2 separate regions of the Homo sapiens genome follow, and region 2 is linked to region 1. Evidence: fine-mapped expression QTL. A gene starts in region 1. The other region holds a variant in brackets. All regions are shown on one strand. Distances are from middle to middle. Region 1 holds the start of PANX1 (pannexin 1). Region 2 overlaps PANX1 (pannexin 1).

The links. PIP is the estimated chance that this variant, and not a neighbour inherited with it, causes the effect.
Region 2: its variant is the best candidate, but not a certain one, in a credible set for the expression of PANX1 in tibial artery (GTEx, PIP 0.59).

The regions. Positions count from the first base shown.
Region 1 is chr11:94,126,643-94,132,126 of GRCh38, reverse strand. It overlaps PANX1 (pannexin 1), which reads right to left and starts at 3,286. Exons shown (of 5, transcript NM_015368.4): 1 at 2,634-3,286. The coding sequence starts at 2,814. RefSeq lists enhancers at 2,714-2,973, 3,294-3,353 and a silencer at 2,994-3,063.
Region 2 is chr11:94,176,428-94,181,656 of GRCh38, reverse strand. It overlaps PANX1 (pannexin 1), which reads right to left. Exons shown (of 5, transcript NM_015368.4): 3 at 3,065-3,288; 4 at 1,400-2,055; 5 at 1-867. The coding sequence ends at 788. Among named protein-coding and RNA genes, the nearest start is that of PANX1, 50 kb to the right of the region's middle. The variant T/C (reference allele first, on the strand shown) is at 2,185.

The DNA.
Region 1 (5,484 bases):
CAAATGTTTATAGAGTAGTTTCAATCTCCATGCAAAACATGCATAGACAGGTTATAAAGCTCTGTGTTAAGTTCAACAAAAGAGTATTCCAAGCACCAGAGAGGGAAGCAGTAATTATCAACAGAGGAAGGATGAAGCCATGTTTTAAGTCTGCAGGCCTTATCTCAGTGTCTTCCCGGGGCCTGAGTTCACTGGCCAATATGGTGGGCAAAGTGCCAGCTCCATTTCAATTACTTCATTCTCCCTTTATTGCTGTTCTTTTTTTTGGTTTGTTTTTGGCTGAGTGCATACTACTAACTACACAAAATTAAATGCTGCATGACATGATCCCTCCCACTGTACCAACTCCATGTATTAATCTATGTACCTCTCCCCTCTTCTCAAAAGCCCTTCTTCTGGTTTTATCTAAATGTATACCTAATCTAATAGGTCTTCCCTGGTCCTGTTAGCTTCATCCCACATGTCTGTCCTCCCCTGGAACTCCTGAAAACACTTCAGAAAACATGGGAGTCTGCTTGACAGCTCCTCACCCAAGTGCCTGCCAACCTTCACCAGCCTGGAGCTCATAGCTCAACACCTGGCTGGGTGCTGAATTACACACAGCTGAATGACTTACCTGCTAACAGATACCTTCTAGTGCCCAACTGCATAGTAAACTGCCACAGGGCAGGGAGAGGGCAGGGCAAGAACAAGGTCTCAAAATCCTTTCCCATCTCCCTCAGCACACAACAGTGCTATGCACACAGCATGAGCTCAAACTCTTGCTAGTTAAAACCACTCCCAATACCCCAAAAATACCTCTCAGACAGCCCACCAATTTAGACGTATCTAAGGCATTACAGGTACAGGTGCCTTAGGAGTCCCTCTAGTACATGTGCTAGAGGTGGAGATTGGTCACAGAGGGTGACTAACTCCTTCCTCCTGCCTTTCTGTCCCAACCAGGTACCCAAGACTTGCACCTCCAAGACAGGGATCATGCCTCTTTTACTCCCGGGTCCTTGGAGGTCAGCACCGAGTTCAGCACACAGCCAGTACTGAAGGAGGAATTGACCAAAGGGAGAGATTATCTCCAGGACTCATGCTACTTGGTGGTTTTGCTTTCAGCTGGAAGCCTCAATCCACTGTCAAATGGAAACTTAAAGAACATCCCGATGACTATGCCTGCGCAAAGAGCAGGAAAACTAAAAACTATTTTCCACAATGAATTTGGCAACTTCCTGCCAAGCTGAACAACTTAGTGCTGCAGATTGCAAAATCACACTCATAGTCATTCTTTCCTAATCAACTATTCCCTCAACTTCACAATTCCCATCACCACCAACACCACACTCCACTCACCCAGACATACAACCTCCGCAGCACGTTTGACCAGTACTGCCGTTCATGGCCTATTAAATACTAGGTACTCAAGTGCTGCTTATTTACTCCTTGATCGCACAGCAATCACCCACCCATTTTCTTCCACTCTTCACACCCTCTGTGCACAAGACCTCAGCCGATGCCTTGCTCTCTGGCACCCAGCCCTCCAGGCCCCATCCTCTCACCTTCTTCCCAGACCCTAAATGCCACCATCATTCAACCAGTCTGTCCTCTGCTCAAACAATAACTTCACAGTTCTGAAACCATCAGCCTACACTCTTCTGTTCCAGGCTGACCCAGGCCCATATTCACTCTCAGACTCCAGGAACTCTGACTTATCCTCCTGCCTTGGCTAGGAGAGTCACTGTGTCTCTCTTTCCAGGAACATATAACATTCTCTGCCATCTCAAAACCTTAACAAAGGTCTTACTCCTTCTTGTCCAAATCCCACCCACCCTCTGACAAAAGTTTTCCCAAAGTCCAGCCGCACTGGGTCCTCTCTCTTCCCCTGCCACAGAACTGTATTTAACCCTCCTGCGCTACCTTCCTGTTGGTTCATAAACACTCTCTCCTGTGTGGAGAGTCAGAACAGCTGATGAGGAAGGTAAGGCACGTAGCCACGTGATCCTGCCCAAACCACCAGACTTTCCAATCTCACACAACTGTTATGAAGCTCAAATGATAATTTACAGGAAGGGGACTTGTTCATCTCACATTTGTAAGACCGTCCAAGTTGAGGATCCCTCTAATGCCTGCCAAGTGCAGATATTTCCTATCATTCACAACCCTAGAGAGCTAAGATCTCAGCAAATACCAATTATATGTAAGACACTGAAAGAACACACTTCTCATGGAGCACCGGTCTTCACATCCTCCATGTAGCCACTCAGGAACTTCTCTGGTGTAAAATTTTAGGCGGCTGGACAAATATGTAGGAGACAGGGGTGAAAAACGGGGACACAGCTATTCTTGGCAAATCTGGTGGCAAGGTGCCAGTTCTAAGGGTGGAACATAAACTATAAGCCACAGTCCGATCAGAGGGGCATGAGGAACAAAAGAACTGAGGAGTAGGGATGCGAGCAGAGTAGACCAGGGTACCAATGAAACACCTGGGCAAAGAACGCTTTGGACCATAAAACTGGGGCCACTGCCCTTCCTGACGCTCACGACCATCACAGCTGGGCGTACCCAGACTCGGGCCTGTGAGCCGTAAAATCGCAGCTCACCGGGCCAGACCGGGGCGGCCACTCCCCTCCGTCCTGGGCGAGGCTTACCAATCGAGATCTCCTGCGCGAAGGCCAGCGAGATGAGCAGCAGGGGCAGCCCCACCGCAATGCACGTGACCATCTTGTCCACAGCCAGCTCCAGTCGCAGCCCCTTGAACTTGGGCTCCGTGGGCTCCTTCAGCAAGAAATCCGAGAACACGTACTCCGTGGCCAGTTGAGCGATGGCCATGGCTGCGGCGCGCCAGGCTCGACCAGGAGGTCCGGGTACAGCCGGCGTCGGGAAAGCTGCGCGGCGCCTTCACCCAGTCACCGGCCGGGCGCGCGGCTTTCGCTTTCCCTTTGCCTGCTCCCGCATCCCGCCTGCCTTTGTGTCTCGGTGCCTCAGGCTCCCAGCGACTCCGCTGGGCTCTCGCGCTCGCTGCCTCCGCCGCCGGCGGGGCGGGGCGGGGCGGGAACCCGAGAGCTCCGCTTCCTGCGGTTCCACCCCGCACGCCCGTGCAAGTCCCCGGGCCGCGCGCGGCACTCGGATTCGCGCCTCTCCCGCGCACCCCCAGGCGCGGGAACCACGCGCGGAACAAAGCGCTTCCCTCTGGCCCTGCCCCTCCGCGCCGCCCTGGCTGCCGAAGCGGCCGCCGGGATAGCCCTGCGCTCACAGCCAGCTGCGCCGCGCTCTTCCGGAACCATGCGGGGAAACCAAGTACCCAGGGGCGTGGAGCTTCCGGAAGACGCGGTGACGCGGGGCGGGGTGGGCGCGGCTGCATTCCGCGCCCCTCGGGCCACTCTCTGACAAAGGGATTTTCCCACTGAGCGGCACCTTTGGAAATTCTCCCGTCCCTCCCTGCCGGATTCTCCTCACGTCCTGGCACCCGGGAGTTTTAAAATCATTTCTGCAAGCGACTCTTTCTGTGGATGGGATGGCCCCCTTTACGCCCCACCCCCAACATTTCCAACACGGTGAAATCGGGTTAGAAGGAGCTGCAAAAGCTTCAAAGAACAGTCAGTGCCATAAAAGGCCAATCGAGCGGTGTAGACCGACGGTGCCTTGCAGAGGGAGCGCTGGACCCTTCCAGGAGCTCCGCGTGAGAGGGTGGCGCGGAAACGGTAGTGAGTGTGGAGTTTCGAGGCCTGAGTAGCGCTGCTGGTCCCGTTTCTCTTTCCTCTGCCATCCCAATCAGAGCCTTGTTCCGGGAGCCAGCAGAGAGAGGGGGGCCTGCAGGTAGGTGGGTGTTGGGGCTGCAGAGAGCTGCTTCTGAACAGCTCATAGGAAGTGGATGATGGAAAGACAGGAGGAAATACTCTGACCAGTGTCCACGGAAATTAAGGCTGTTGAAGTAGAAATAATTTGATTTATTGGAAGCTAAATGTGAGGATCCACCCAAGAAGACTTACCAGCAAAGTTGGGCATGTTTCAAAATTTGTTACACGTTGGAAGGGTTTTAGAAGAAAGTTTAGGAAAAGGGAGGAGGACCCCTTATATCAGAGGTGGGATTTTTTTCATCGGAGGGTATGGTACACAGGTTACAGTCACTGGCTGCAGATGACAACATACAGGCTAAAATGTTTTGTGCACAAGAAAATCAAAGTTTATATGATTCAGAAACAAGTCAGTGTTCTTTTCAATGTCAGTATTTTACATACTAATCAGTACATCAGCAGTTTGAGGAACTGACAAAAGGATTTGAAGGACTCACAGTAAGATTTTTTACTCAGGGACAGGATCTAAGCCATGAATCATAAGACCTTTCTTAGATGGCTTAGTTTGGAAGCCCTGTCAAATGTGACATGTAGGTTATCACCAGTAACATTTGAAGCAGGCAGGACCTGCAAACATGAGGGCTCCTTGGGGCAGGGCTTGGCTCCCTTCTCTGTGGGTCCACAGATACAAGCCTCAACTCCCACATGTACCTCTCCACCCCAGCCTGGCCGCTAAACACACATCCAAGAGCGTATACAGCTCTCTCCGCGTAGATGGCTCATAGGGCTTCAAACTCATAACGGCCAGGACTTCAGTCTTCATCTTCCCCTTAAACCTGAACTCCATCTTCCCCATCTTACTAAATGTACCACCAGCCACCTGTGCACCCAAGTCGGAATCCTGGAGCACCATCTTCAACACTCCATTTCTCACAGCTGCCATAACCAATTTTCAAATTCTCTTGCTTCTCTCTCCTAAATATAGCAAATCTGACACCCCTCCACCTGCACTGCCAATACCCAATTCAACTCACCATCCTGTCTCCTAACCACATATAGGAAATATGTGAGACAGGGTCCCCCTCCATTCTCCTCTACAGCTGCCAGGATGAGCTTTTCAAAACTCCAGTCGGATCATCTTTTCTACTTAAAGTGTACATTGTTTTTAGCATAAAATACAAATTTCTTAGCATGGCCTCTGCCTACCTCACCACCAGCTTCACTGCTTTCCTTTCAGTTCTTCAAGTTAGCTAAGCCCTTGGCCTCCTCCAGGCCTTCCCACCCAAAACACTCCCCACAGTGGCCTCTTTGCCTGGCCCACCTTTATTCACCCTTCTGGCCTCAGCTTGATGTCACTTCCCTGGGAAAGCCTTCCCTAAGTAGACAGACTAGATTAGGTCCCTTTGTGAAATTCTCCCATAATACTAGCCACACTAGTTACTAGCTATTAGTCTTGGGGAGTTCTTTGACTCTCCTGTGTCTCAGTTTTCTCATCTGTAAAAAGGTTGTACCTCTTAGGACTGTGATAAGGACCAAATGAGTTAACACGTGGGTAGTGCCCAGTGCCTGGCACCTTGTGAATCTAGGTACATTTCATCTGTCATTGTTCTCTATTTTTCCTTCTTAAAAATAGTCACCATTGCAACTCAACAAATATTTATTCATTTATTTAGTGTTTGCCACCACTTTATGTGATCGGCTTCTT
Region 2 (5,229 bases), 50 kb before region 1:
AACTCTTTGAAAGTGACTGAATTAATGTCTTCTGTGATGTCAGATTTCCCCACTGGGCTCTTTTGGAAGCATTCTTCCTGAATTGAAGTCACTGTGAATATCCTTTAGATTTCATCTTGTTAACTCAGTTTTCAGTCAGAGCAGCACTTGGGCCTGCTGCCCTTCAAGGCACAGTGCAACAAATAGTGGTTACGGGATTTCCATCAGCCAAGGTTGACAACTAACAATGTAAAGAGAGCTCGAGTGTGGGCCAAGGCATCGGACCTTACACCTAACTTAGGACATAGGTCGACCTATGGATTATTAGCCAGTGAATGCTTTTCTTGTCTAACAGTCTTTAAGGGCACATAAGAAACTCACGTTAAATTATACCCTGACATATTATTATTCCATGAAAACAAAACAAATCTTCCAAAGTGCTTGTTTTCCAGTAGCTCTGGGTCTTGTCTCACCACGGGTACAGAAAGGTATTGCTCCGAGGCTCTGACAGGGCTACTGCTCTTGACTAATTGTTCTTGTCTTTCTGCTTTTCATTTGATGAGGACTTACACATAGTTACTTGCTGCAGTTTACTATCTCTCAGGTGCTTCCTATGGGAAGTTCATAAACCATTCTTCCATAACCTTTTGTTGATCACCATTTCCATTAGGGACTCAATAAGACATGCTCAGTATCTCCACCAAGAACCATTTATTGCAAACCAGCTGTGAAACCAACAGGGGTGCTTTAGCCAAATTAAATCCCATGTCGCAGAAGTCACAGATTTACAGCTCAAGGAAAAAAATCATCAGCAAGAAGAATCCAGAAGTCTCTGTCGGGCATTCTTCTCTCCATTATTTGCTTTAGTTTCACTGTCTATGTTCATACCTGTCAAAATTGAAAACAAATATTTATGACAGAAACATAGCAGGAATTACCAATACTAATCAATTTTTCTTCTGCCAAAAATTCCTCTCACAGTCTATACCATGTTTTGCTTCTTGGCCTAACTAAAAGAATCAATAAACTTTTAGTCCCCTTTGAAAGAGAAAGTCAGAGAGTAACAGAGAAGGAGATCAGAGGTAGAAAGGAAAGCCAGTAAGATAAGACAAAAATAAGCAAGAAAGACAAGGAAGATTGCTGAGCAAGAGAGAGTGTGAGACAGACAGAGAAGAGGGAAAAACCAGAAAAAGCACAGAAGTTATTCTTCTTTGGAAATGTAGAGCAGCACCAATTCTTTTCCTCTCTCTCCTTATACTGAGGGGTTCCCACTCCCCCTACCCCGCACCTTGGTATTAAGGTTTTTAATGCTTGGAAATGGTTTAAATGATGGGCAGGGTAAAGACTGTCAATATTCCCACAAGGCTGCTGCAAAGGCTCTCGGTAGACTCCCGTAGCCTCTGCCAAAAGCAAACCCTACCTTGGAGCTCTGCCGTCTGGTTCCCCTGCTCCTCTCTCATCTCTGCAGACATGGGAGTTTTGCCATCAACAACATCCATCTTGATCATGCCAAGGTTTGTCAGGAGTAGCATTGGGTCGATCCCCTGACCACTGCTCTTAATATTCTCCAGTACCTTAAGACACTTGTATGACTTGACCTCACTTATATTTTCCTCCAAGAAGAGATTGTAGAGGCTCAAATCGTTGTACCCTTCAGATTTGAAATGCAGAACATCAAAAGTGGGGAGGATTTCGTACACTTTGAGAACATCTGTCTTCTGTCGGAATGGAACAAACAGCGTGTAGACAACCACGGGAGCCAGCAGGACATAAACCACAAGGTTAATGACACTGAGCAACTGGAAGATGCCCACGGCAATGAGTTTGCACTGAAACTGATCGGGCACGGTGCTGTCGTTTCTCAGGATCCCTGATTTGATGCTGCACACAAACTCGTCTGAGAGTGAGGAGAGGCTGAAGTAATAGCCCAGGTAGATACACGCTAACAGTATAATGATGAGTGTCAGCAGGCGGCAGCTAATGTACTTGATGATTAAATTATTAGAATTTTTCTTTGTCTTCAAGTACTGCTCCACAATTGGGTACTTGAAGTGGCTTTCAGATACCTCCCACAAACTAAAAAATAAAGGAAACAAAAATAACTTAGGCACTCATCAAGACCATCAAATATTAAAGGCAGATACACATTCAACAATGTCACACTAAAAATTTCAAACACCCATACTTCTTTACCTACAACGTCAG[T/C]AGTCAAAAATAAAATCCGTTTAAAAGAGGAGGAAGAAAAGGAATAATAAAATGCTTTTCCCCTTAATATTTAACAGAAGGCCTAGTTAATTAAATGAGTTAATATTTGGAAATTTTTAGAGTGATGCCTGGCATCTGGTAAATCCTAAATATGTGTAAGCATACGCCTCTTACAGGCAAGGGGTGGGACAACTCAGGGGGTATGGGCAAAAACTATGGGGTCTAAAGGGCATGGTTCAGTTCCCAGACTCTCACTTACAGCTACAGAAGAGTATTTTTATCCAGAATAAAAGTGGAGGAGGAGGTTAACAAATGCACTAGTAATGTTGCTCTGAGGGTTAAAGGAGATAATGTACTTAAATAACTCAATACGGTGTGTGAGATATATTAAATATTCAAAAAATGATGGCTCTTATTATTATTCCAATTATTCAATAACAAGAACCAAAAGAAGGTTGTGAAAAGGCAAGCCACGACCTACTCATTCCCCATTTCTCTCTCATCCCTTGCTCAGCTGCCTTGAAATCCTCTGTGCGTCTCCATTAAGGAGTTAAATAGATCAAAGCAAGCAAGCTTCATATAGCACCTCAATCTGTTACCCCTACAAGAACTGCATTTTTAAAATGAGATGTAATGTTTCACTCATCAAGGGAATGAGTCTTGACAGAAGGATAAACAAATGGGTAGGATGGGTCGCGGTGAGATTTGGGGAGAGTGGACATCCCGGGATACTACAGGCTGTCACTAGGTGCATGACGTCCCCCTGCTTCCACTCCTGCCCCGCCTCCTAGCAATGAGAACTCTGGGCCCAGACTGGCAGTAGAAGGGCAGAGAATTTGTCCTACAAAACCCGATGAGCTGCCTGCTGGGGCTAAGTTACCTTTGCCCTAAGTTCTCGGTAACACCTGGAACTGAGCAGGCTCCATCTCTCATGTCAAGGTCACGCGCACTCTTTGCAGCCTTAATTGCACGGTTGTAAACTTTGTCAAGTTCTTCCATGATAAACTTCAAGTCTGAGCAAATATGAGGAGCAGCTGCGAAACGCCAGAACAGCGGGGGCAGGTACAGGAGGATCGCAAAGAGCAGCAGGATGTAGGGGAAAAACTGAAAAACAAGAGAACAAATCATGGGCTTAACAAACCCCCCATGCAGTAACCTATGGCGCCAAGTGATGCTCTCATTTTCTCACATCTTGAGACAAATGTGTATTGTGGAAATTGGGCTCATTACCTAATAACTACTTCTTATGGCTAAATTCCCCTGTCCAGGTAATACCTGTCACAGGTAACTACCTATTTTTTTTTCTTCCATAGGTATTAATTTGAAGTAATCAGCAACTGCATGGTGACACATGGTGTGTACGTTCTAATCACAGAAGGAAAATAAAAAAATAAAATTACTCCCGTTCCCTGAACAAAATCCCAGTTAAGAAACCTGCAGCTATCACGAAGGCTTCTGCTGGGTTTTTGTTAACTTTTATGGTTTTAAGAAGCAACTAAGGCATACGGCTCCATTTTTGCCCTACTCTGGAATCTGGGAAAATGCCAAAGAAACATGTAACTTCCCCCAAAACAAATTAGAAAAGCTTCGACTTCAGTGATTCAGTAATCATCCCAATAAGACAGCTGAAATAAGCAGTTGAATTCACAGAATGCAGAATGAATGTGGAACAGACTTTGAAGGCAGTCCAACACCCTCATCGTATAGTTGGATAAACTTGGGCTCAGAGAGGCCATCCACAACGGGCAAGGGAATCAAGAGGAGAGCATCCACATCAGGGTGCAGACACACACCAAACAAGAGGGGATTCACACGTCAGAGAGGGTGAGGAGCACCCCAGTAACCAGGACCACCAGTTGGTCAGAGGTGGCTTAGCCTCAGCAGAAGACTTAGGAAGACCGTAAATTGCAGTCAGTGCAGATCTGAATTGAAGCTCAGCATTGCGGCCTTGGGCAATCATGTCTACTCTGCAGAACTAAGTAGCTGCGACAGTGACCATGTGATCTGCAATGACAAAAAAACTTTATGATCTGGCCCTCTGCAGAAGTTTGCTGACCCTGGTCTAGGCCCTTGATGTCACTTTCGACTATCCTTTTGCGTGATCTTCTAATCAGCAATAAGACATAAGAGTATTGCTTTTTGTTTGCTCTTTGCCTTCTTGGACAAAACTGCTTCTTTTCCTTTCTGTTCCCTAATTAGAACCCTCACTCTGTGCTTACCAAGTGGCTCTCCCTGCCTCTATTCTCTCCTGTACACCATTACTGAGGCTTAACTCTTGGAACCGCCAAGTTCACCCTGCTCAGGTACCTGCAATGGCTCCCGCTGTCCCCAGCATTTAGCCCATCCATCTGGTTAGTTTTCAAAGTCTCTGACCCTCAGTTTCCTTATGTATGAAATGGTCATGGAATAGAGGTGTCATGAAGATTAAAGGAGATAATTGATGGAAAATGCTTAGCAAAGGGCCTGGCATAGAACAGGCACTCAAACACTCCAGGTAACCACAAAAAGATTAGCTAGGTGGACACGTTATGTTCAGTCCTCACAGCAACCCTGGCAGGGACTCTATAGATGGCTCCATTCTGCAAATGGGAAGAGAAAGCCGGGAGCAGTTTCTGGCCCCAGATCACAAAGCTGGTAAGTGAGAGTCAGACTATGTTGCCAACCTCTCTGACCCCAGAGACATCTTTTTCCAATCTAACACACTCTCAATTACTTTACTCCTCTGGAAAACTTCTCCTTACTTTTGGATGGGTCTATCTCCACCATTTCTCAGAGTTGTAATGGACGAGGCCATGATGGCCGTAAGTTGACATGAAACCCTCCCCTCAAAACATTTCTGGGAGTGGACGGCAGCCCCCACAACATGGCCCTCACTGTAATTTCAGATGTACAGAGCATTCCCATAAGCCCCTCACTCAGTTTCCCCCATTGCTAATGACTCATATTTCTGTGATATATTTGTTAAGACTAAGAAGCCAACATCGGCACATTATCAGAAACTAAACTTCAGACTTTTATTTGTAAAGTACAGTAGTAGTTTTTCCC